Homo sapiens: one gene and its partners. The protein of the gene in region 5 interacts with the protein of the main gene of each other region in a pairwise test. Each region holds a gene or a part of one and is shown on either strand. Other genes may lie near its edges.

The links.
Region 1: the proteins of SH2D4A (region 5) and ZMYND12 interact in binary tests that used the Homo sapiens proteins (3 or more experiments, as listed by UniProt).
Region 2: the proteins of SH2D4A (region 5) and NUTM1 interact in binary tests that used the Homo sapiens proteins (3 or more experiments, as listed by UniProt).
Region 3: the proteins of SH2D4A (region 5) and DBNL interact in binary tests that used the Homo sapiens proteins (3 or more experiments, as listed by UniProt).
Region 4: the proteins of SH2D4A (region 5) and CEP70 interact in binary tests that used the Homo sapiens proteins (3 or more experiments, as listed by UniProt).
Region 6: the proteins of SH2D4A (region 5) and ZBTB16 interact in binary tests that used the Homo sapiens proteins (3 or more experiments, as listed by UniProt).
Region 7: the proteins of SH2D4A (region 5) and CEP76 interact in binary tests that used the Homo sapiens proteins (3 or more experiments, as listed by UniProt).

The regions. Positions count from the first base shown.
Region 1 is NC_000001.11:42,432,023-42,435,522, reverse strand, and holds part of ZMYND12 (zinc finger MYND domain-containing protein 12), read left to right. Parts: intron 1-137; coding exon 138-249; intron 250-2,234; coding exon 2,235-2,380; intron 2,381-3,500. UniProt on the Homo sapiens protein: Required for sperm flagellum function and male fertility.
Region 2 is NC_000015.10:34,355,775-34,358,235, forward strand, and holds the end of NUTM1 (NUT family member 1), read left to right. Parts: coding exon 1-1,717; 3' UTR 1,718-1,961; downstream 1,962-2,461. UniProt on the Homo sapiens protein: Plays a role in the regulation of proliferation. Regulates TERT expression by modulating SP1 binding to TERT promoter binding sites.
Region 3 is NC_000007.14:44,054,702-44,058,201, forward strand, and holds part of DBNL (drebrin-like protein), read left to right. Parts: intron 1-2,055; coding exon 2,056-2,202; intron 2,203-3,080; coding exon 3,081-3,158; intron 3,159-3,427; coding exon 3,428-3,500. UniProt on the Homo sapiens protein: Adapter protein that binds F-actin and DNM1, and thereby plays a role in receptor-mediated endocytosis.
Region 4 is NC_000003.12:138,570,261-138,573,760, reverse strand, and holds part of CEP70 (centrosomal protein of 70 kDa), read left to right. Parts: intron 1-776; exon of another isoform or gene 777-828; 5' UTR 829-833; coding exon 834-902; intron 903-2,404; coding exon 2,405-2,495; intron 2,496-2,603; coding exon 2,604-2,727; intron 2,728-3,234; exon of another isoform or gene 3,235-3,262; coding exon 3,263-3,443; intron 3,444-3,500.
Region 5 is NC_000008.11:19,334,193-19,337,692, reverse strand, and holds part of SH2D4A (SH2 domain-containing protein 4A), read right to left. Parts: intron 3,008-3,500; coding exon 2,836-3,007; intron 1-2,835. UniProt on the Homo sapiens protein: Inhibits estrogen-induced cell proliferation by competing with PLCG for binding to ESR1, blocking the effect of estrogen on PLCG and repressing estrogen-induced proliferation. May play a role in T-cell development and function.
Region 6 is NC_000011.10:114,062,711-114,066,210, forward strand, and holds part of ZBTB16 (zinc finger and BTB domain-containing protein 16), read left to right. Parts: intron 1-500; 5' UTR 501-590; coding exon 591-1,858; intron 1,859-3,500. UniProt on the Homo sapiens protein: Acts as a transcriptional repressor. Transcriptional repression may be mediated through recruitment of histone deacetylases to target promoters. May play a role in myeloid maturation and in the development and/or maintenance of other differentiated tissues.
Region 7 is NC_000018.10:12,696,224-12,699,723, reverse strand, and holds part of CEP76 (centrosomal protein of 76 kDa), read left to right. Parts: intron 1-520; coding exon 521-745; intron 746-2,315; coding exon 2,316-2,501; intron 2,502-3,500. UniProt on the Homo sapiens protein: Centrosomal protein involved in regulation of centriole duplication. Required to limit centriole duplication to once per cell cycle by preventing centriole reduplication.

The DNA of each region.
Region 1 (3,500 bases), on a different chromosome or scaffold from region 5:
TCTGCCTCCAGGCACAGTAAGAGAGAGAACCTCCAGGTTGTCCAGAAGCCCGGCCAAATGCGCTACTCTCCTCACCTGCCTGGTCCGACGGCTGAGGTCTGGCCTGCTTGTTGTATTACCATCTCTTTTCCCAACAGGTCTCTGAGATCTGGCATGCATATTTGAACAATCACTATCAAGTCCTCTCACAGGCTCACATCCAACAAATGGATTTACTGGGCAAACTATTTGAGAATGACACTGGCTTGGGTAAGTGGCAGTTTTCCCTGAAGGGAGAGCAGTGACTTCATCTCACCCAATACACAGACCTTGTCCCTAAGAGGGAAAGCAGCTGTCCCTGTCATGAAGCACACCATTGCCACCTTCCCCATGTTGCTGATGGAGAAAACTGAGACACGGGGATCAAAGAGATTTTACCAGTGTTGGGAAGAATTCAGATCCCTATCATCACACATAGCCATTCGGGGGTTACTAAGGGACAGATTTAGAGGGAAAAAAAGACCACATCAAAGCCCCCTGTGATTTCTGCAGAGCATCCATTTCTATGTTATCCCTCCAGGGCAGCAGTCCCAATCTCTCCCTGGCACCAGGGACCCGTTTCATGGAAGACAATTTTTCCATGGACTGGGGGGCGTGGGAGGAATGGTTTCAGGAGAATTCAAGTGCATTACATTTATTGTGTACTATGTTTTTATTATTATTAATATATTGTAATATATAATGAAATAATTATACCATGCATCATAATGTAGAATCAGTGGGAGCCCTGAGCTTGTTTTCCTGCAACTAGATGGTCCCATCTGGGAGTGATGGGTGACAGTGACAGATCATCAGGCATTAGATTCTCATAAGGAGTGTACATCCTAGATCCTTTGCATGCACAGTTCACAATAGGGTTCACGCTCCTAAGAGAATCTGATGCTGCTGCTGAACTGACAGGAGGTGGAGCTCAGGTGGTAATGCAAGCAATGGGGAGTGGCTGTAAATACAGATGAAGCTTTACTCGCCCCTACCACCCCTGCTCACCACCTGCTGTGCAGCCCGATTCCTAACAGGCCACAAAACAGTTCTGGTCCATGGCCTGGGGGTTGGGGACTCTTGCTCCAGGACACGTAAGCCAAGGTAGACTCTACACAGAAGGTGCATTGCTGATTTCTTCTGGTGCCTTAACTTCATGCTTTACTGAACAGTGAGCTTCTCAGTGGCAGGGCCCAGTTGGATTAAACTGTATTCCCCGGGCCAGCAAAGGGCTAAGTGTTGAATAGTACCGTACAGCATCATGCCCTCAGAGACAATGAAAAGACACAGAGGATCTAGTTTCTGCTCAAAAGAGACATACAGTGCAGTTGGTGATATAGAACCTATAGGCAATAACAAAAGAACATTCCTGTGAGTACAAATTATGTTACAAGATGAGTCCCAGAATGAAGAGGTGAGGACAGCTGGGTGGTGTTGAAGAAGGAAGACTCTTTGGAGGAGAGGTTTTGAGCTAAAGTTTAAAAAATTAATAACTTTATTGAATTTTCTCTCATTATGTAAATAGTTCATGTTATAGCTGAAAACTTGGAAATCATAGATATCCAAAGATAGCCAACCTTAACATGATGGTGTATATCCTTTTCGTCTTTTTCTCTAAGCTTAGTACTTGTATAAGTGCTTTTAAATGCATGTAGTGACTTCTCAGTAAATGATGACTAAAGTAGGACCAAAAACTACTGGGGAAAATAGTAAACAGACTCTCAGAGGGAAGCATGAAGGTTGTTGCTTACGCATCTATGGCCTAGACGAGAAGAGTTAAGCTGCTGCAGCTGCAAGAAGTCCCTTCCCCCAGTTCTCTCCTCTCAGCTGTAGAGTGGAATCTGAGTTGGACCCAAGGAATCTGCCTGTGGCAGATTATCTGTGTTTGTAAGCCCAAGAGATCTAGAGTTCAGGACTCCGAAAGAGAGAAACCTTAGCAACTTTGGGACCTGTGGGAGTGAGCCTATTTTTAGGCTACTCTGATAATGGCATGCTAAGCAAAGCTGGAAAGCGGTCTGAAACTCCTGCTTCGGAGCTTCCTGCTTTGCACCTGGAGGGAGTCCTCTAGGTAAAAAACTTGCTGTAATTGGTGCTATTTCCACCAGTGCCCTTGGGAAGGCTTCAGCAGACCAGGCGCTTTAACAGCTGAGTGCTTTTGATGAGGGCAGACTCAGTTGCCAAGAGCCTGTTTTTTCTTTCTTCCCCTTCCAATGCAGATGAAGCCCAAGAAGCAGAAGCCATTCGCATCCTGACTTCAATCTTGAACATTCGAGAATCTACATCTGACAAAGCCCCCCAAAAAACCATCTTTGTTCTGAAGATCCTGGTCATGTTTTACTACCTGATGATGAATTCTTCAAAGGCAAGTTTCCCTAAAAAAGCAACACGTCTAAAATGAAGGTAGAAATTCAACTAGTTGAACTCAAAATTTGTGTTTTGCCCAATTCCAATAGCTTTTGCCCTCAGAGCAAGCCCTCACTCCAAAGAGGTTCAGATGCTCACGATGTTTCTCCTGTGTTGAGTCTAGCCTGCATAATGGAAATTGGATTGTCTTCTTCCCCCGAGGGTTCCCAGTCTTGCATAGATAAAGAGAGTCTGAGGCAGTGCTGGGAAGCCTGCAGGGCAGGAAGGCTCTGGGGAGCCTTGGATGGATGAAGTAGCCGCTCTAACTCCACTCAGTTACTGAGTTCCCTGTTGCTGCGGGGATTCAGGCAGAAATGCATTGCCATGAAATGATTCAAAAAGTAACTTTTTGAGTACTTTTACCTACCAGTTATTGGCCTAAACCCTTTACATAATTATCATACTTAATGCTTACACCAACATTAATGAGGTAGCTATTTTATTATCTCTACTTTACAAACAAGGAAACTGAGGCACCGAGAGGGTCAATTCTTTGCCCAATGTCTTACAGACAGCAAGTAGCATATCTCAGGTTTATTGACTTATTGGTTGATTCTCTCATTCATTCAAACATTTATTGAAAATCTACCATTTGTAAAGCACTAATCTAGGGACTGGGGATACAGTGGTGATCCATACGTTTCCTATCTCTATGGCACTGGTGTTTTTTGGAGGAGTGGAAATAAACATATGTATGTGTAATATAATTTCAGATAGTAGAAACTGTTATAAAGAAAACTAGCCAGGCACAGTGTCTCATGACTGTATTCCCAGTACTTTGGGAGGCTGAGGAGGGATGATTGCTTATGTCCCGGAGTTCAAGACCAGCCTGGGCAACATAATGAGACCCACTCTCTACTAAAAATAAAAATAAAAAGATCAGCCGGGCTAGAGGTGTGCACATGTAGTCCCAGCCACTCGGGAGGCTGAGATAAGAGGATTACTTGAGCCCAGGAGATTGAGGCTGCAGTGAGCCGTGCTTGTGCCTCTGCACTCTAGCCTGGGTGACAGAGCAAGATCCTGTCTCAAAAAAAAAAAAAAGAAAAAGAAAAAGAAAAGAAGAAGAAGAAGAAGAAAAA
Region 2 (2,461 bases), on a different chromosome or scaffold from region 5:
CAGCTGGGACCTGCAGCCAGAACTTGCAGCTCCACAGGGAACTCCGGGACCCTTGGGTGTGGAGAGGAGAGGGTCTGGGAAGGTTATAAACCAGGTATCTCTACATCAGGATGGCCATCTAGGAGGCGCTGGGCCTCCTGGGCACTGCCTGGTGGCTGATAGGACTTCAGAGGCTCTGCCCCTTTGTTGGCAGGGAGGCTTCCAGCCTGAGAGCACTCCCAGTTTGGATGCTGGACTTGCAGAGCTGGCTCCTCTGCAAGGACAAGGGTTAGAAAAGCAAGTCCTGGGATTGCAGAAAGGACAACAAACAGGGGGTCGTGGAGTGCTTCCTCAAGGGAAGGAGCCTTTAGCAGTGCCCTGGGAAGGCTCTTCAGGAGCCATGTGGGGAGATGACAGAGGTACCCCCATGGCTCAGAGTTATGATCAGAATCCTTCCCCTAGAGCAGCTGGGGAGAGGGACGATGTCTGTCTCAGCCCAGGAGTTTGGCTGAGCAGTGAGATGGATGCTGTAGGCTTGGAGCTGCCTGTACAAATAGAGGAGGTCATAGAGAGCTTCCAAGTTGAGAAGTGTGTAACTGAGTATCAGGAAGGCTGCCAGGGACTGGGCTCCAGGGGCAACATTTCCCTGGGTCCTGGAGAAACCCTAGTACCTGGGGATACGGAGAGCAGTGTGATTCCCTGTGGAGGCACAGTTGCGGCAGCTGCCCTAGAAAAGAGAAACTATTGCAGCTTGCCAGGACCTTTGAGGGCCAACAGCCCACCCTTGAGGTCCAAAGAAAATCAAGAACAGAGCTGTGAAACCGTAGGGCATCCCAGTGATCTGTGGGCAGAAGGTTGCTTCCCATTGCTAGAAAGTGGTGATTCCACACTGGGGTCTTCCAAAGAAACCCTTCCACCCACATGCCAAGGCAATCTCCTTATCATGGGGACTGAGGATGCCTCCTCCTTGCCTGAAGCCAGTCAAGAGGCAGGGAGCAGAGGCAATTCCTTTTCTCCTCTGTTGGAAACCATAGAACCTGTCAACATACTAGATGTTAAAGATGACTGTGGCCTCCAACTAAGGGTCAGCGAGGACACCTGCCCACTGAATGTTCATTCTTATGACCCCCAAGGAGAAGGCAGGGTGGATCCTGATCTGTCCAAGCCTAAAAACCTTGCTCCTTTACAAGAGAGTCAGGAGTCTTACACAACTGGGACTCCCAAAGCAACATCTTCTCACCAGGGCCTTGGAAGCACTTTGCCTAGAAGGGGAACCAGGAATGCCATAGTTCCGAGAGAAACTTCTGTTAGTAAAACACACAGGTCAGCAGACAGGGCCAAAGGAAAGGAGAAAAAGAAAAAGGAAGCAGAGGAAGAGGATGAGGAACTCTCCAACTTTGCTTACCTCTTGGCCTCTAAACTTAGCCTCTCACCAAGGGAGCATCCCCTCAGTCCTCACCATGCCTCAGGAGGTCAGGGCAGCCAGAGAGCATCCCACCTGCTCCCTGCTGGAGCAAAAGGCCCCAGCAAACTTCCATATCCTGTTGCCAAGTCTGGGAAGCGAGCTCTAGCTGGAGGTCCAGCCCCTACTGAAAAGACACCCCACTCAGGAGCTCAACTTGGGGTCCCCAGGGAGAAACCCCTAGCTCTGGGAGTAGTTCGACCCTCACAGCCTCGTAAAAGGCGGTGTGACAGTTTTGTCACGGGCAGAAGGAAGAAACGACGTCGTAGCCAGTAGGGAGCAGCGGGACCATCTGACCCCACTTGCCAGTCCCTAAAGGTGGGTGCCCCAGAGTAGATTCCACCCCTGCTGCCCACCAATGGAGAATCCCAATGTTGAATCTCATCCCAATGTTGTTTTGTTGTTCTGCAAAAGTGGCAAGCATGGAGAGAGAGGTCAGACTGGCTAGGCTGCAGGGGGAATTACCTTTGGAAGGAGCTATATAGAAAAAAAATGAATAAAGTGTTTTGTTGGAAAATGCTCTCAGAGTGCCCTTTTTCTGTACTCGTGTCTTTGCTGCTAGATAGGGTTAAGATGCTATGAAGAAAGGCTGTAGGGGTAGTCTTAGATTCTACAAATCCATAAATCTTGTCTCCAGCCTTATCTTGGCTCCCTGCAGCCTCCTCCTGGCAACAGACTGGCTCTCAGGCTGTGATAAGTCTCCAAACTGAGGAATCTCCAATGATCACATTATACATCCCCTCTTCACAAGCCTGGACTTGGTGTCAGGAAGGCTTATCTGGGCATCTTATAATTATCTGCCTCCCTTGAAGTCTATAGATAGAAAGATGCTTTTCTACCTGTTAGATCTCTGAGATAGAGATCTAATTTTCTTTCTTCTTTTTTTGAGACAGGGTCTCGTTCTGTAGCCTAAGCTACAGAGTGCAGTGGCATAACGATGGCTTATTGCAGCCTCAACCTCCTGGGCTTAGACAATCCTCCCAGCTTAGCCTCCCAAGTAGCTGGGACTACAGGTGTGCA
Region 3 (3,500 bases), on a different chromosome or scaffold from region 5:
CCTTCTGTACTATTGAATACTAGAATTTATTCCTTCTATTTAACTGTACTTTTGTACCTGTTAAGCAACTTCTCTTCATTTTCTCTCCCCCATGCCCTTCCCAACCCCTGGTAACCAGCATTCTACTCTCTCCCTCCATGATACCCACTTTTTTAGCTCCCACATGAGTGAGAACATGCAATACTTGTCTTCTGTGCCTGGCTTATTTCCCTTAACATCATGACCTCCAGTTCCATCCATGTTGCTGCAAATGACAGGATGCCATTCTGTTTTATGGCTGAATAATATTCCCTCATGTTTATATACTAAATTTTCTTTACCCTTTCATCCATTGATGGACGTTTTGGTTGATTCCGTATCTTGGCTATTGTTAATAGCGCTGAACTTCAGAGTTGGATATATCCCCAGCAGCTGGATTGCTAGATCATATGGTAGTTCTGCTTTTAGTAGGACTAAAATACTGTTTTAAAAACCATACTGTTGTCTAGGCGCGATGGCTCACGCCTGTAATCCCAGCAGTTTGGGAGGCCAAGGTGAACAGATTACCTGAGGTCAGGAGTTCAAGACCAGCCTGGCCAACATGGTGAAACCCCGTCTCTACTAAAAAAATACAACAATTAGCCAGGTGTGGTGGCGGGCACCTGTAATCCCAGCTACTCAGGAAGCTGAGGCAGAGAATCTCTTGAACCTGGGAGGTGGAGGTTGCAGTGAGCCGAGATTGTCCACTGCACTCCAGCCTGGGCAACAGAGTAAGACTCTGTCTCAGAAAAAAACCCAAAAAACCATACTGTTTTTATAATGGCTGTACTACTTTACATTCCTACCAACAGTGTATAAGAATTTCCCTTTCTCCACATCCTTGCTAGCATTTATTTTTTATGTTTTTTATAATAGCCATTCTAACTGTGGTGAGATGATAGCCCGTTATGGTTTTGGTTTGCATTTCCCTGATGATGGTTAGTGATGTTGAGCATTTTTTTGTATGTAGTTAGCCATGCGTATATCATCTTTCGAGAAATATCTGTTAAGGTCTTTTGCCCATTTTAAAATCAGATTATTATTTTTTTGCTACTGAGTTGTTTGAGTTCCTTATATATTCTGGTCACTAATTCCTTGTCAGATGGATAGTTTGAAGATATTTTCTCCCATTCTGTAGGTTGTCTGTTTACTTTGTTGATTGTTTCATTTGCTGTGCAGAAGCCTTTTAGCTTGATGTAGTCCAATTGGTTGATTTTTGCTTTTGTTGCCTGGGCTTTTGAGGTCTTAACCCAAAAAAAATCTTTGCCCAGATCAATGTCCAGGGGCATCTACCCAGTGTTTTCTTTGAGTAGTTTCATAGTTTCAGGTCTTACATTTAAGTCTTTTTAACCCATTTTGAGTTTTTTTTTAATATGGTAAAAGATGAAGATTTAGTTTCATTCTTCTGCATATGGATATCCAATTTTCCTAGCCCTGTTTATGAAGGAGACCGTCCTTTCCCCAGTGTATGTTCCTGTCACCTTTGTTAAAAATGAGTTGGCTGTGTGTGTGAGTGCTCTGTTAGTTTCCATTGTTGTGTCTGTGTTTATGCCTGTACCATGCTGTTTTGCTTACTGTAGTTTTGTAGTTTAATTTGAAATCAGGTAGCATGAAGCCTCCAGCTTTGTACTTTTTGCTTCAGATTGCTTTAGCTATTCAGGGTCTTTTGTGGCTTCCAGATGGCATTTAAAATTAGTTTTCATTGATTAGAAGGAAGGCCTTTGATGCAAATTATGCCTGGGCTGTCTATTGATACACAGCAGGGAACAGCTACAGAAGGAACCACTGGATAGCACAGTGGAGGTCAAGGGTCTCACGTGAACTGGGACAAGAATGAGGGGTTTGCTCCAAGTTGGTTTGTTTGAGCCCTTGAGGGGAACTCGTGCCTCAGTTTTCAGCAGCCAGACAGGTGCCTTCTAGTTTCCTGATTCCAGTCCTGTGTGGTATAGTAGTGGCCCGTGCTGTATGGACTGACAGGAGTTTGGCCCATCTCCTGGGCTTGCAAAGCCCTTCTTTCAAGTGCTGCTCCTGCTGCAGGGGGCCCATGTGACCATCAACGCACGGGCCGAGGAGGATGTGGAGCCTGAGTGCATCATGGAGAAGGTGGCCAAGGCTTCAGGTGCCAACTACAGCTTTCACAAGGAGAGTGGCCGCTTCCAGGACGTGGGACCCCAGGCCCCAGTGGTGAGTGCTGCTTGCCCATCGCCAGCCCTTTTGTTGCTCAGGGCCTGAGGCAGGGGGCCAGGAATATGCACTTCCCAGCACCCGGGCTGGCTGGGCCCATGCCTGCTTAGTTTCTGCAGATGGTAACCCCTGAGCTGTGGTGATTGCCCACTGACCAGATGAGCAGGAATAGCCCTCTGACCTTGCCTAGGGGTTGGACTAGCTGTTCTGGAGCCTTCCTCTGGAGCCCAGCCTGTGTGGTCAGAGTGGAGGCTCTGCAGCATGCATGGCTATGATAGTCTGGCTGCCCTCAAGGTCATGGCACTGGAACATCTTGGGCTGCCCCTGGAGGTAGCCACCGTGGAGGAACTAAAGGAGGCATCAAGGCGGAGCCTGAAACCAGAGCAGGCCCCTTGGAGTCACGGGAGATACCTGTGGGCCTGTGGCCCCAGTGCTGTGTGGAGCTGATGGCTGGGAGCTGCGTCCGCATGCGTGTGGTTGGACGTGATTCCTTGGATGCTCTTGTGGTAGTCAGCTGTCTGAGTGCCCCTGGTCAGAGGCCTGCCTCAGAACTGCCCAATGTCTAGGAGTCTGCAGGTGGGGTATGGGGGCCTTTCTTGCCCTGGCCCCCATCCATGAGGGCGAGAGACCACCAGAGACCCCTCTAGTGTTGTCTGGGATTGAGCATCCCCCTTGGGGCAGTGTCCTGGGCTTCTTTCAGGTCATCTTGGTGTGTGTCTCCTTGAGGGTCACTGGGCAGTGCTCTGCTGCCTCTGCTGGGTCCAGTCCTAGCAGCACTCACCTGTGCTGTCGCAAGTTTAGCGTATTCTCTCCTTTGGTGCCTGTGGGCCTGGCCTTCCACCTGGGTCCAGGTCTCTAATGAGTGCTGTCCCCTACAGGGCTCTGTGTACCAGAAGACCAATGCCGTGTCTGAGATTAAAAGGGTTGGTAAAGACAGCTTCTGGGCCAAAGCAGAGGTGAGTGCTGCCCCGGGGCATGCTGGGCACGTGGGAGTGTTCTGCTTGCTGTGGCTCATCTTTCCTCACAAGTGAGCTCATGCAGCATCCACTCTCCTTGGTGCCCATTACAGATGGTCACACTGAGGCTCGGGTAAGTTAAGCCACAAGGCTAATGATCGACTGGCTCTGGTGCCCGTCTTTGGCCATGTGCCTAAAACTCAGTCCTGGGCAGGGGATTAGGCTGAAGTGGCAGCATAGGGCTGAGCGGGCAGTGGCTCTCCCTGCAGAAGGAGGAGGAGAACCGTCGGCTGGAGGAAAAGCGGCGGGCCGAGGAGGCACAGCGGCAGCTGGAGCAGGAGC
Region 4 (3,500 bases), on a different chromosome or scaffold from region 5:
CTACTCTCAGCTAATATATTTCTGTTACTGTGCATTTTAATTGTACATTTTATACTTCACAAGATCTCATTATGTAGTCTGTGTTTAAACTCGCCCATTTTTTTGCTCTATTTTTTTCTACATCTCTGCTTTTCCATCAGGGAGTCTTCTGCATGAAGCAGCTTCTTTAGAATTTTTTTACAGAGCAGATGCAATGAACACTCTCAGATTTATTTTGTGTCATGTGTTTGAAAATATATTACTTTTGCCTTTATTATTCGTTAATGAATGTTTTCACTGGCTTTGGAATTTTAGATAAGCAATTATTTTCTTTCAGCACATTGAAGATATTAGTGTCTAGGTATGACTGACTTTTTTTTTCTTTTTTCTTTTTTTTTTTTACTGTATCCCAGTTGCAATATGTTGGGTTTCTAGAATGTGTGGATTTATGTCTTTCATTGATTCTCAAATTTTTCTTAGCCATTAGCTCTTCAAATGCTCCTTCTACTCCATTCTTTCCTCTGTTCTTGGGTACCAGTTATGCATTCTGTGGTGGGGGGTTAGACAGGACAGAGTGTATGTGTGTGTGTGGTATATGTGTAAAATCCCAGAATGCTTTATTTCCAGAGGAGAACATTATAAGATAGGGTTTATTCAAATGAGTCTTACAATCAGCTATCTAAGAAGTCACAAAGTTTTGACGCAGGAATGACCTGAATTGCCCTGCAAGAGTAGTGGATTCTTTTAAATATACTTTTCTTTAACTCCTTTTGCACTTTTTGTCTTTTTTCATTTAGGCAACTCAAATTTTTTAATTGCCAATTTCTGTTTCTTTTGATTCTACAAAAGTAACTATGTTTCCGGTAGCCCCTAAACCCCAGGATTCCAGTCAACCATCAGACAGACTCATGACTGAAAAACAGGTAAACTTAAAATATTTTAAGACACTGCTTCTCAAAATATGTGCCAAAGAATGCTACATCTACAAACAGGAAAATTTGACTTTAAAAGGATTCTTTCTCAAATAATTTTAGGAAATGCTGGGTTAAAGACTATGAAATGGTTTAATTACTCTAAGACTTCACAATATTAGTCTCCAAAGGGAGGATTTAGTATACAGCATTTCATACATACTTAACACTAGTTTGATGAACATTTCATTAGACTAGTGTTCTGTAGCATGTACTTTGGAAAATGCCATTCCCAACTATTTTCAGAATTTACAATTACTTTATCTTAAAATGTAAGAGGTATCAGGAAACAATATGTATAAGTTAATCATTCAAAATATGTGACTTTATTATGTATAGAGCATTTTGTTTTTATGAGTTACAGTAGAAGTTCTGAGACACTAACTCAGAGCTTTTGGCTCCTAAAACAACATCAATGTTAATTTTAGTTGTGTCTACCACGTAGTTAAACTCTGTGATCAGAAAGACTAAAGCATAAATGAGAGAAAAGTTATGAGTGGGAGGAGATGTAAAAAAAAGGAGGAAGAAGTCAACAGTCAAAAAGAAAGACTTGTTTGACTTTGAGAGTGTCTTTCAGGGTGATTCTGTTAGAGTCAGTTATCCAGATGGACGGGCTCCTTTTTATAGTTAGACCTTGTCCATTTGACAAGGAGCTGTCTGAAATATTGGCTCCAACTAGTCAGGTATGTTTTGATTTTTTTGTGACCCTAGTCATTATGAAAGTGATACTTAGGGGCTGGGGCGGTGGCTCACGCCTGTAATCTCAGCACTTTGGGAGGCCAGGGCGGGTGGATCACCAGGTCAGGAGATCCAGACCAACCTGGCTAACACGGTGAAACCCCATCTCTACTAAAAATACAAAAAATTAGCCGGGCGTGGTGGCGGGCGCCTGTAGTCCCAGCTACTCGGGAGGCTGAGGCAGGAGAATGGTGTGAACCTGGGAGGCAGAGCTTGCAGTGAGCCGAGATCGTACCGCTGCACTCCAGCCTAGGTGACAGAGCAAGACTCTGTCTCAAAAAGAAAGAAAAAAGAAAGTGATACTTAGAAGTGACTCACCTTTTCTTTTCTTTACTATCCAGTTATTATAGCCTAGTTTACAGCTGTTTATTCTGAGCAGGGCTTGGTTTGGCTTAGTTAAATCTAAAACCTTAGATTTATTTGATTCACTGAAATTACAAGGTGTTTTTGTTGTTGTTGTTGGTTTTGTCCATTGAGGCCTACATATGAGTATTCTGTATAATGCAACAATTTGTGCTTATTTACATACTTCTAGTCTATTACTAATTTTGCTAGAAACAATAAATGTGTTTTTTGGATATTATATATGCATAAACATTTATACTTAAAACTTTTGAAGAAAAAGTTCTATTCTGAAAATGCAGGAAATTATATATGAGAGAATTTCTTCACTTTATATCTAAAGTTAACCCTTTCTTCTCTTTCTGTAATTGTAGCAGGAAGAAGCAGAATGGGAAAGCATAAATGTGCTATTGATGATGCATGGCTTAAAACCTTTGTCTCTAGTCAAAAGAACAGATCTCAAAGGTAATTAGATCCTATTCTTGATGCTTAAGGTAAAAAGTTTATTTTTCCTTAAAAAATTTTTTTTGCCTTTTATTTTTACTATCTGTATTATATACTTTTTAAATGTAGATCTCATCATTTTTGACAAACAGTCATCACAAAGGATGAGACAGAATTTGAAATTGTTGGTGGAAGAAACATCATGTCAACAGAACATGATACAGGAGCTTATAGAAACTAATCAACAGCTTAGGTGAGAAAATGGAAAAGATTTCTTTTGAATTGTTTGTATGCGTTCTAAAAATAACTGCCTTGAAAAAAATCTTGAAATTTAATTTCCCATTTTGATTAAATATTAAACTAAAAAATATTTTTGTAGGTAAAATTTTAATAGGTAAATCTTTTGGTAATAGCTTAGCATAGATGTTTAATGGTACCCTATATTTCTTCTATTAGTTTCTGTTGCAGGATGAGCATCTCAAATCTGAAAATCTGAAAGGCTCCAAAAATTGAAACTTTTTGAGCACCAACATGATGCTTAAAGGAAATGCTTATTGGAGCATTTTGGATTTTGGATTTTCAGATTTGAGATGCTTAACTAGTAAGTATGATGCAAATATTCCAAAATCTGAAAAAATCTGAAATATGAATCACTTCTGGTTCCAAGCATTTTGGATAAAGAGAATGCAAAGAAACTTTAGAAAGGCAATACATTCTTATATGGATATGCTTGGTAATTCGATTTATTTTTAATACTAAGGGAAGAAATTGTATGTCTATTAACTTAGAAATGAACTTCAGCTAGAGCAAAGCCGAGCAGCCAATCAAGAACAACGAGCTAATGACTTGGAACAAATTATGGAAAGTGTGAAATCCAAAATTGGTGAATTGGAGGATGAATCACTAAGTAGGGCTTGCCACCAACAGAATAAAATAAAAGATCTTCAAAAGGAGCAGAAAACTTTACAGGTACTGAGTTATGAATTCTTAGATGATGGTTAGTTAGTACTAAAACAGCTCATTATG
Region 5 (3,500 bases):
AGACGTGCCTTTCACCTTCCACAGTGATTGTGAGGCCTCCCCAGCTACATGGAACTGTAAGTCCATTAAACCTCTTTGTTTTGTAAACTGCCCAATCTTGGGTATGTCTTTATCAGCAGCATGAAAACAGACTAGTACACTCTCTCTCACATTTTCCTTGGCTCTCCTCTTATAAGGACACTTGTCTTGGGATTTAGGATCCACCCTAAATCCAGGGTGATCTCATCTTGAGATCCTTTACTTTAATTACATCTGCAAAGATCTATTTCCAAATAAGCTCACATTCTGAGGTTCTAGGTGGACATAAATTTCGGGGGATAAATATTCAGACCACTATAGTGACATATACACAACTTACAATAAAAATATAAATGTACCATCGAGTCAGTTGTCTGAGAGGTAGCAGACGACCTCTTTAAAGGCTCACACTAGCTGTGAAATCAGGCTCCTCGCTGTGTGGCCTGCTGTCAGAGTGAACTTCAGCAAATACCACAGGAGCCCCTGACAGCATCTTCTCTGACACAGGGAAAGATAAAAAGCAGGAATATAAAAACCTGTCACCCATCTATTTCCATATTCCTTCTATCTGAATATTTCTTTCTCCCCTGCCCCCATCTCTTTCCATATGTCAGTTTAGCAGGCACCTAAGGAAGGCAACAGTGCCACTCTCAATATAATATTTATGAGATGGTTAAAGAATAATAACTGTGGTATCTATTTTAATTTCCATTTTAATCTTTTGTCCTACTTTTGAAAAAAAAAGGTCTAAAAAAGTACTGTAATTCAAGCACAAATATAAGCATACATACTTAATACTTTTTTTTAAGACTTAGGGTCTCACTTGGTCCCCCAGGCTACAGTACAGTGGTGTAATCAGGACTCACTGCAGCCTCAAATTCCTGGGCTCAATCGATCCTCCTGCCTCAGCCTCCTGAGTTGCTAGGACTACAGGCATGCACCACCATGCTTGGCTGTTTTTTTTTAATTTTTTGTAGAGATGGGGGTCTCACTGTCTCTGCAGGATTATGCCCAGGCTTGTCTGGAACTCCTGGCCTCAAAAGGGATCCTCCTGCCTCGGCCTCCAAAAGCACTGAGATTACAAGTGTGAGCAAACACACTCAGCTGCATAATTAATACTCTGGAAGGAGCTTTCTTGTTATTACTGTTGTTCTTGGTTGGAGGGGTGTGGGAAGGGGAGCCGTGTTGGGGGAGTTTAGTGTTACACATGCTGAGTGCAAAGCACACCTGGGGAGGACGGGAGGCCTCAATGAGGATGTGGGGAGCATGTCCAGGGCTGACCTTGAGATGAAAAACCAAATTTAGAATTTTCTCTTCCTAAATATTTTGAGCCTCATATTTGTAGCCCTTCATAAAAAGCTTCTTCATAGCCCTCATATTAATGACACAACCAAACATGAGAGTTAAGAATTAAGGAGTTAGTAGTTAATATTTAAGGAATAGCCTGGGGGTCCTGCAGACCTGGGTTTGAATAAGACCTTGGGCAGGTTGCTTAACCACACCTAGCCTCAGTTTCCCCAGCTGTAAAATGGACAAATGTCTCTAGTTCATGTTATTGTGAGGATTACATGAGACACTCAGCAGTGTGCTTTGCTGTGGAATAACCCCTGACCATGTTAGTTATCAGAGTCTCACTAGGTCCTAGGAGGAGGCAGGAGATACCTGTATTCCCATATGATAGCCTCAAAGAAGTCAAAAGCACACACAGCCAGTGCTGCAGGGCTGGAGACATAAATGGAAATCAAACAACTGCAAATCCCTGTTAATTCTCAGTGTAATTAAATTCCTGGTAGAATAATAAGGTGTTTCATTGTTCTCCCAAACTATAATCCAACCAGCAAATTATGTTTGAGTTTTTTAAACCATCTGAACCATAAGAGAATTCATACCAATTCTGAGTATAAAATTTCTATTATGTTGGGGAGGTAACTGTCCCCAAGTCACAGGCAGAGCCAATGAAGCCCAACAGGCACTGATGTTTAGAATCCGCAACAAAAAGGCTAAGACTCAGTAGAATGTAATCTAAATCATGAACAGGCCAAATCTGCCCCTCAGCCTGTGCTTGAAAATAAAGTTTTATTGGAACACAGCCATGCTCATTCATTTGTGTATAGCTGTGACAAAGATGGCATGGCCCATAAAGCCTAAACCATTTACTATGTTGCACTTTACAGAAAATGTTTGCCAACCTCTGCTGTAACAGAAGACATATAATGGGGCAGCATTGAGGAGAACCTGAAAATATCTTAAAATGCCAAATTGCATTCCTAGCGTTCTTGTTACTTTCAGTCTCATGAAATAGGGGTGCTTTATTTTCCATGATGTAGCATGGAAGGTAAATCCCCCAAGTGACATGAGCAAGAGGATCTTTTTTTTTTTGAGATGGAGTCTCGCTCTGTCGCCCAGGCTGGAGTGCTGGAGTGCAGTGTCGCAATCTCGGCTCACTGCAAGCTCCACCTCCCAGGTTCACGCCGTTCTCCTGCCTCAGCCTCCCGAGTAGCTGGGACTGCAGGCGCCCGCCACCACGCCCAGCTAATTTTTTTTTTTGTATTTTTAGTAGACACGGGGTTTCACCGTGTTAGCCAGGATGGTCTCGATCTCCTGACCTCGTGATCCGCCCGCCTTGGCCTCCCAAAGTGCTGGGATTACAGGCATGAGCCACCGTGCCTGCCCTGGAGGATCTTAAAGTTAGGAGGCATTTCTCCCAAGAAAGCCACTGGAGGATCCTGACACTCAGCCACAGTAGTCTCTGTGGCCTCAATAGCTTTTTCTCCCCCATGATGAAATTCCGCACGTCTACAGACAGTAAGGACTCACTCGGATTTTCTCTTCTTCCAGGGTTGGTGCTGGCCTCGATCCTTGCTCCAGTTCCTCCTTTTCTGCCACTTTCTTCCAGATGTCTTTAGTCTGCTGGTTATCCGGAGCCTGCAGATCATGGTACTGTGATTTTGTTTTCAAGCTATTGGTGAATTCTTCAGAGTGAGTTTTTCTGAAGAGAGGCAAAAGTGAAATTCTCAAAAAACATTCTTCAACAGGAAGAGCCTTTCCAAAGCATATGTCGACATTCAAATTATGTGAAAAACAGTAACTGACACCACTTACTGAGTGCTTCTAACATGCTGGGCCCTTTGCTAGGTGTGTAAAGACGTTAACTTCATCCTCATCACAACCCTGTGAGGAAGGCATTGTCATCCTCACTTTGTTATAAGAGCTCCAAGAAATTTTGTAATTCATCCAAGACCACATAGTGGTACAGCCAAGATCTGAACCCTGGTCTGCTCAACTCCTGGTTTAGAAGTTAACCTATTAGAACCACACCGTCTGCTTCCAATCGATGATTAAATAATTCCTTTATCTTCATATGTCCATGGATAGTTTTAAAGTTACAGGCACTAGTGGGCAGCATCCCAGCCCTTGAAAGTCCAATGCACCATCCACTGTGCCACAGAGTCTGCTTTGCATCCCTAGCCCTTGGGAACTGA
Region 6 (3,500 bases), on a different chromosome or scaffold from region 5:
ACTCTGCTTCTGGGGCTCCTGTAGTGAGGCAGAGTTTGGAAAAACTGTTTAAAGATAAGGCTTGACATCCAGGGGGCTGGCGTGAAGCTGACAAGGAAGGGGCTAAAGTCTTGCTAATTTTAAGTAAGTGCACTTCATCATAATGAATGTTGGCCTTGCCTAGGGAGCCCCTACTCTCAGACACAGAGAAAGCTGAGGACTTATAGGACTTCACTACAATTTTCATTTCACTTCATCTAACAGATGTCATAGAGTAGTGAATTAGGCATCTGCTGTGGCAGAACCTTCTTTTTACTCTCAGCATCCCTGGCTTGAAAGGCAGATTTGTAGATTTCTAGGAAGCTACTTCAATTAAAATCTCTAAGATCCTCTTGCTAAGGGCTTGGCAACAGGGAGGAGGGGGCATGTTGTAGTGGTTGAATTCTTACTTTTAGGGACACTGATGAATTTGTCTTTTGTTCTCTCATCTCTTTTGCTTCTTCCCCTCTTCTTTCTCCTAGCCTCCTCTATTGGCCCAGGAAGCCCACCCAGCCCCGCCACGCAGAGCCCAGAAGGAAAGAAAGCCTCATGCCTGAGCCGAGGGGAGCACCATGGATCTGACAAAAATGGGCATGATCCAGCTGCAGAACCCTAGCCACCCCACGGGGCTACTGTGCAAGGCCAACCAGATGCGGCTGGCCGGGACTTTGTGCGATGTGGTCATCATGGTGGACAGCCAGGAGTTCCACGCCCACCGGACGGTGCTGGCCTGCACCAGCAAGATGTTTGAGATCCTCTTCCACCGCAATAGTCAACACTATACTTTGGACTTCCTCTCGCCAAAGACCTTCCAGCAGATTCTGGAGTATGCATATACAGCCACGCTGCAAGCCAAGGCGGAGGACCTGGATGACCTGCTGTATGCGGCCGAGATCCTGGAGATCGAGTACCTGGAGGAACAGTGCCTGAAGATGCTGGAGACCATCCAGGCCTCAGACGACAATGACACGGAGGCCACCATGGCCGATGGCGGGGCCGAGGAAGAAGAGGACCGCAAGGCTCGGTACCTCAAGAACATCTTCATCTCGAAGCATTCCAGCGAGGAGAGTGGGTATGCCAGTGTGGCTGGACAGAGCCTCCCTGGGCCCATGGTGGACCAGAGCCCTTCAGTCTCCACTTCATTTGGTCTTTCAGCCATGAGTCCCACCAAGGCTGCAGTGGACAGTTTGATGACCATAGGACAGTCTCTCCTGCAGGGAACTCTTCAGCCACCTGCAGGGCCCGAGGAGCCAACTCTGGCTGGGGGTGGGCGGCACCCTGGGGTGGCTGAGGTGAAGACGGAGATGATGCAGGTGGATGAGGTGCCCAGCCAGGACAGCCCTGGGGCAGCCGAGTCCAGCATCTCAGGAGGGATGGGGGACAAGGTTGAGGAAAGAGGCAAAGAGGGGCCTGGGACCCCGACTCGAAGCAGCGTCATCACCAGTGCTAGGGAGCTACACTATGGGCGAGAGGAGAGTGCCGAGCAGGTGCCACCCCCAGCTGAGGCTGGCCAGGCCCCCACTGGCCGACCTGAGCACCCAGCACCCCCGCCTGAGAAGCATCTGGGCATCTACTCCGTGTTGCCCAACCACAAGGCTGACGCTGTATTGAGCATGCCGTCTTCCGTGACCTCTGGCCTCCACGTGCAGCCTGCCCTGGCTGTCTCCATGGACTTCAGCACCTATGGGGGGCTGCTGCCCCAGGGCTTCATCCAGAGGGAGCTGTTCAGCAAGCTGGGGGAGCTGGCTGTGGGCATGAAGTCAGAGAGCCGGACCATCGGAGAGCAGTGCAGCGTGTGTGGGGTCGAGCTTCCTGATAACGAGGCTGTGGAGCAGCACAGGTAGGCCCCGCTCCAGCCCCGCACCTGATGTAGGACTTGAGGCCCTCACACCCCTCCTTCACACCCTGGCTGCTCCCAAGTTAGGGGCCTGGCTCCCCTGTCTTGGCAATTTGTGAAAAAACCAGAACACTTCTTCTAAAGTTCTGGCGGGGAGGGGAGCAGGTTTTTTAAAGTGTAGTGAGGGGGCCTAGGATCTTTCCAAAAAGCACCAGGGGACACTCATGGGCGCAGCTTCTTAATAGGCCCTTCCCTTTGTTTTTTGCTTTTGGGCCCCTGTTTGTTTTTTCGGCTGTTTGGTCTGTTCTCCTTTGCTTGGAGTGACTGATAAAATGGAGAGAAGGAGAAAAGGAGTGGGATGAGGGTCTCTTGGGCCCTGCATCTGACCATGTTACTAGGTTTCAGGTCCTCGGGTTCCCATGCAGTGGTCCCTGTGAAGACAGCCTGTCCCTTTCTGCAGCTTGGGAGAATGGGAGGGTCTGGGGGCTGCTTAAGCCACAAGAGCAGCTGCAGGTTCTGAACCTTATTCCTGGTGAAAGTTAATCTCCTTGCTCTGTCTCCCTTCTCATTCTCTGATCCTGCACATGCATTTAGGGGGAATTGATTTAAATGCAAGGGGAAAGGATGGGTATAAGAGTCTTGGTCTTGCAGCCTGTGAAGTCTCATTCTTATCCCATCTCTGCTCACACTGAACTAAATGCCGCTTCAGGCTAGCATTGGCTTCCCTCCGGCTTCCGTTTCCTTCTCTATGAAATAACCATTCATTGAGCTCTTATGACATGTTTGGTTCAGTACTAAGCACTTTCCATGAGTTGCATTTTCATTACAACAGCCCTTTGAGATAGGTAATGTCCTTCTTTTTTTTTTGGATGTGAAGTTTCGCTCTCCTTGCCCAGGCTGGAGTGCAATGGTGTGATCTCTGCTCACCGCAACCTCTGCATCCCGGGTTAAGGTGATTCTCCTGCCTCAGCCTCCCGAGTAGCTCGGATTACAGGCACGCACCACCATACCTGGCTAATTTTGAATTTTTAGTAGAGACGGGCTTTCACCGTGTTGGTCAGGATGGTCTCGAACTCCCGACCTCAGGTGATCGGCCTGCTTCGGCCTCCCAAAGTGCTGGATTACAGGTATGAGCCACCGTGTCCAGCTGGTAATGTCCTTCTTTTACATGGAACAATACTAAGGCTCAGATGTCAAGTCTCTTTTCTAGGGTCACATAGATAGTAAGAGGCAGAGCTGGATTCAAATTTAGGTCCTTACCCCCTGGTACTTTGCTGCCTCTTGGAGTCACTTAGACTTGAAGAGGATCATGTCTATGGAACAGAGCGTTTTGAAGATTGCTTATAGGAAGTGGAGTAAATAACAGGGGGGATAAGTAGCGAGTTTGTTTTTTTTTTCCTTGCTTCTGTCATAAACCACGTGCCCATCATTTTATCCTCTAGTTTCTGGGTCAGATGAATGGAGTCAAGAAATCCAGCTTTCTGTTGTCATTGACGACAGCATTTGGCTGCATACCCTGTGGTCTGCTGTTTTGCTGATCTTGGGTGGATTCTCCACTTCCTCCCCCTTCACCCCCATTCCCCTGTTGCTCGTTCAGGTACGGGGGATGTGAGTGAGAGGGGTTGGGGTGGGGATATCTGGAAGT
Region 7 (3,500 bases), on a different chromosome or scaffold from region 5:
AAATACTTAAAATTTTATGGTTGGCTAAAACAGATTGTTTTGCATGAAGTATATCAGAAGAGTTAATGTATAGCACGGTAGAAGCAAAAACAGCATCACCAGTTTCTTGTGTTTTAATAATATGTTTTATAAAAACTGTACAGCCTTGCTTTTAAATATTAATATAATTGACAAATACACTTGCTGAATTGATAATTATATGAGTTGGTTTGTGAAGGTGGAGGAATGTTGGATAAGCAGTTAAAAAGCAAAAGTATACTACATATTGGCTCTGATGCCTTTTCCAGCTGGGAGAAAGTAGCCTGGATGTAAACTCAGAAAAGAATATCATATTTTGTGTATCTTCTCCCCAGAGTGCAAATGATTCTGGCATATACAGTAATAAATTTGTTACTCTTTTGCTTTTTTTTTAGTCTTTGGTATTGGGTTTTTATCTGTCAAGTTTTTATTTCCTAATGTCTTGATCACATTCTTTTAAGTTATTTGGCAGTTTCCTCATATATATTGCTACACTTTACAGCTAATATTGATCCAACACGGAGGTATCTTTACCTTCAGGTTTTGGGTGGAAAAGCTTTCTTGGAACATCTGCAAGAACCTGAGCCTTTACCTGGACAAGTTTGTTCAACGTTTACTTTATGTTTACATTATCGAAACCAACGTTTTCGTTCTAAACCTGTTCCATGTGCCTGTGAACCAGATTTTCATGATGGCTTTTTACTTGAAGTACACAGAGAAAGCTTGGGTAAGAAACAGTAATAAATTGTCATTTAATTGAGTAAATCTTTGTTATGTTTTATTGTGAAACAATAATAATGACTTTTTCTGTAAGGAGAGATTTATAATGGAGGAATCTCTATTTTGTTTCCCACTGCTCTTTTCAATTTAAACTACTATCCACCTTCTTGCAATATTCTGTTTGCTATTCATTTTCCCTGGATATTATTTTTTGACTGTTTTCATTGTTGATTCTTTAGTAATACACACTTAAATACCTATTATGTGCATAGTGTTATGCTAGGCAGGTGCTGGGATGATATAGTGGAAAATGAGACATGGTCCTTCTCATTTATAAAATATAACCAGATTGATGATGTTATGTAACTTTTAAAAGTCGAAGTTTAGGCTGAGCACGGTGACTCACAGCTGAAATCCCAACACTTTGGGAGGTCTAGGTGAGAGAATCATTTGAAGCCAGGAGTTCAAGACAAGTCTGGGCAAAGTGAGACATTGTCTCTACAAAAAATAAAAAATAGGCTGGGTGTGGTGGCTCATGCCTGTAATCCCAGCACTTTGGGAGGCCAAGGCAGGTGGGTCACCTGAGGTCAGGAGTTTGAGACCAGCCTAGCCAACATGTCGAAACCCTGTCTCTACTAGAAATACAAAATTTCTAGCCGGGCATGGTGGCAGGCGCGTGTAATGAGCCGAGATCACCCCATTGCACTCCAGCCTGGGCAACAGAGTGAGACTCTGTTTAAATAAATAAATAAATGAATAAATATTTATAAATTATTTATAAAAACTTCTAATAAATTTTTATAAATACTTACAAATAAATATAAATAAAATAAAAAGTCAAATTTAGATGTGAACATATAACTGTCATTTTAATTTTTTCTTTTTTTTCTTATTTCTCCAATAAAGCATGTAATTCTCATAACTAAATTTTATGCTACTTGATTCCTGTAATTGTTTTACACTATGTTTCTTTCAGTAAAGGTATTTTGTATTTTGTAATTGTCAGTATGGAAATCTTTATATTTGTAAACTAAGCAAAGTTTCAGAATGTCTTCACAATTTTAGATTTAAAGATGACTGAAACATTACTAAAATTTATTTTTTTCCCTTTGAAAGATGTTACCTTAATAAGGCAATTAATAGGATAAATTGCTAGATTCGATGTGCTGTATTTTTCAGTTGTATGTCAATTATACAGTGATAATTTCTGGAGGTTAAAGGGATTTCTTGAGGTAGTTTGGGGATTAATATTGACATACTTGAAGGCTTTTTATTGTAGTAGCATATACTTTAGTTAAGTACTTTTAAAGAACAGACTTATCTTATGAATCAGAAAGCACTGATATGCTGTAAGTTACTGGATAACTCATCACAATTTGCCAGTCTTCTGAAAAGTTAGTGATAGAAATAGGACTGTACTTGTATTTCCAGTTTTTTGCATGCTTTCTGAGACATTAGCAAATTGTTCTCTTTGGTTTTATATAAGCTTATTATTTACTGTTTAATAAAAGTATTCTTTTATGTTGGCCTAACTGAATATGTAGTGTGGTATAATTTCGTTTGGATTATATTGCTAGGTGATGGAACTAGAATGGCTGATTCAACAACAATGTTATCAATAAGTGATCCAATTCATATGGTGCTAATCAAAACAGACATATTTGGTGAGACGACTTTAGTAGCATCATATTTTCTGGAATGGCGATCGGTTTTGGGCTCAGAAAATGGAGTGACCAGTCTGACTGTGGAACTTATGGGTGTAGGTATGGTGATTAATATATCATTGTTAACCTTTTTATAGCCACAGTTCATTTGTAAATATATTTTATATCTTTAAAATGCTTTTATAATCCAAGAGGGAAACCTGTAAAATAGAATTTCGTTAGAGTTACAATTGGACCTCAGCATCCTAATCTTGAGAAATGTCTTGAAGAATAATATCAGTATAGCACTTCATGGTCAATCTGACCTTGTCTTAGGAGAAATGTTTTTTTCTGGAAAATGAATACAGGAATTTTGAGGGTTTTAATTTCAAGTTCATTTGATTAAATATAAGGCTATAAAGAAAATTAATATTCTTGACACACATACAAACTTATGTGTGTCCAGTCATCACACCCTGGAATACATCCCCTTTGGTACCAGTGATTCTTGCAAAATACAGAGTAGATGTTCTCCCAACCTTTTACAGTGTGGGTGAGTGAGACTCGGAAGAGGAAATAATTTGCTCAGTGTTAGTATCAACTAGTCCTTGAGGGCAGAGCTGGTGCCTATCTTATTTATCATAGTCTCCTTGGAATCTTGCACACTGCCCGCTATGTAACACATACTTGCTAATAAAATGAGAAAACAAAACCTACCAATGTTTTATCTATAACATATAATGGAATTACTTTGGTTTTTAAACTTAGTCACAGAGTTAAACCTTGCCAGTGGACAGCATAGCCTTAGTAATTTAGATTATTATTATTATTATTATTATTTGAGATGGAGTCTCGCTCTGTCACCAGGCTGGAGTGCAGTGCTGCAATCTCGGCTCACTGCAACCCCCGCCTCCTGGGTTCAAGCGATTATACTGGCTCAGCCTGCTAAGTAGCTGGGACTACAGGCATGCACCACCACACCCAGCTAATTTTTGTATTTTTAGTAGAGATGGGGTTTCACCATGTTGGCCGGGATGGTCTCGATCTCTTGACCTCGTGATCTGCCCGCCTCGGCCTCCCAAAGTGCTGGGATATTGGCGTGAGTCACCGCGCCCAGCC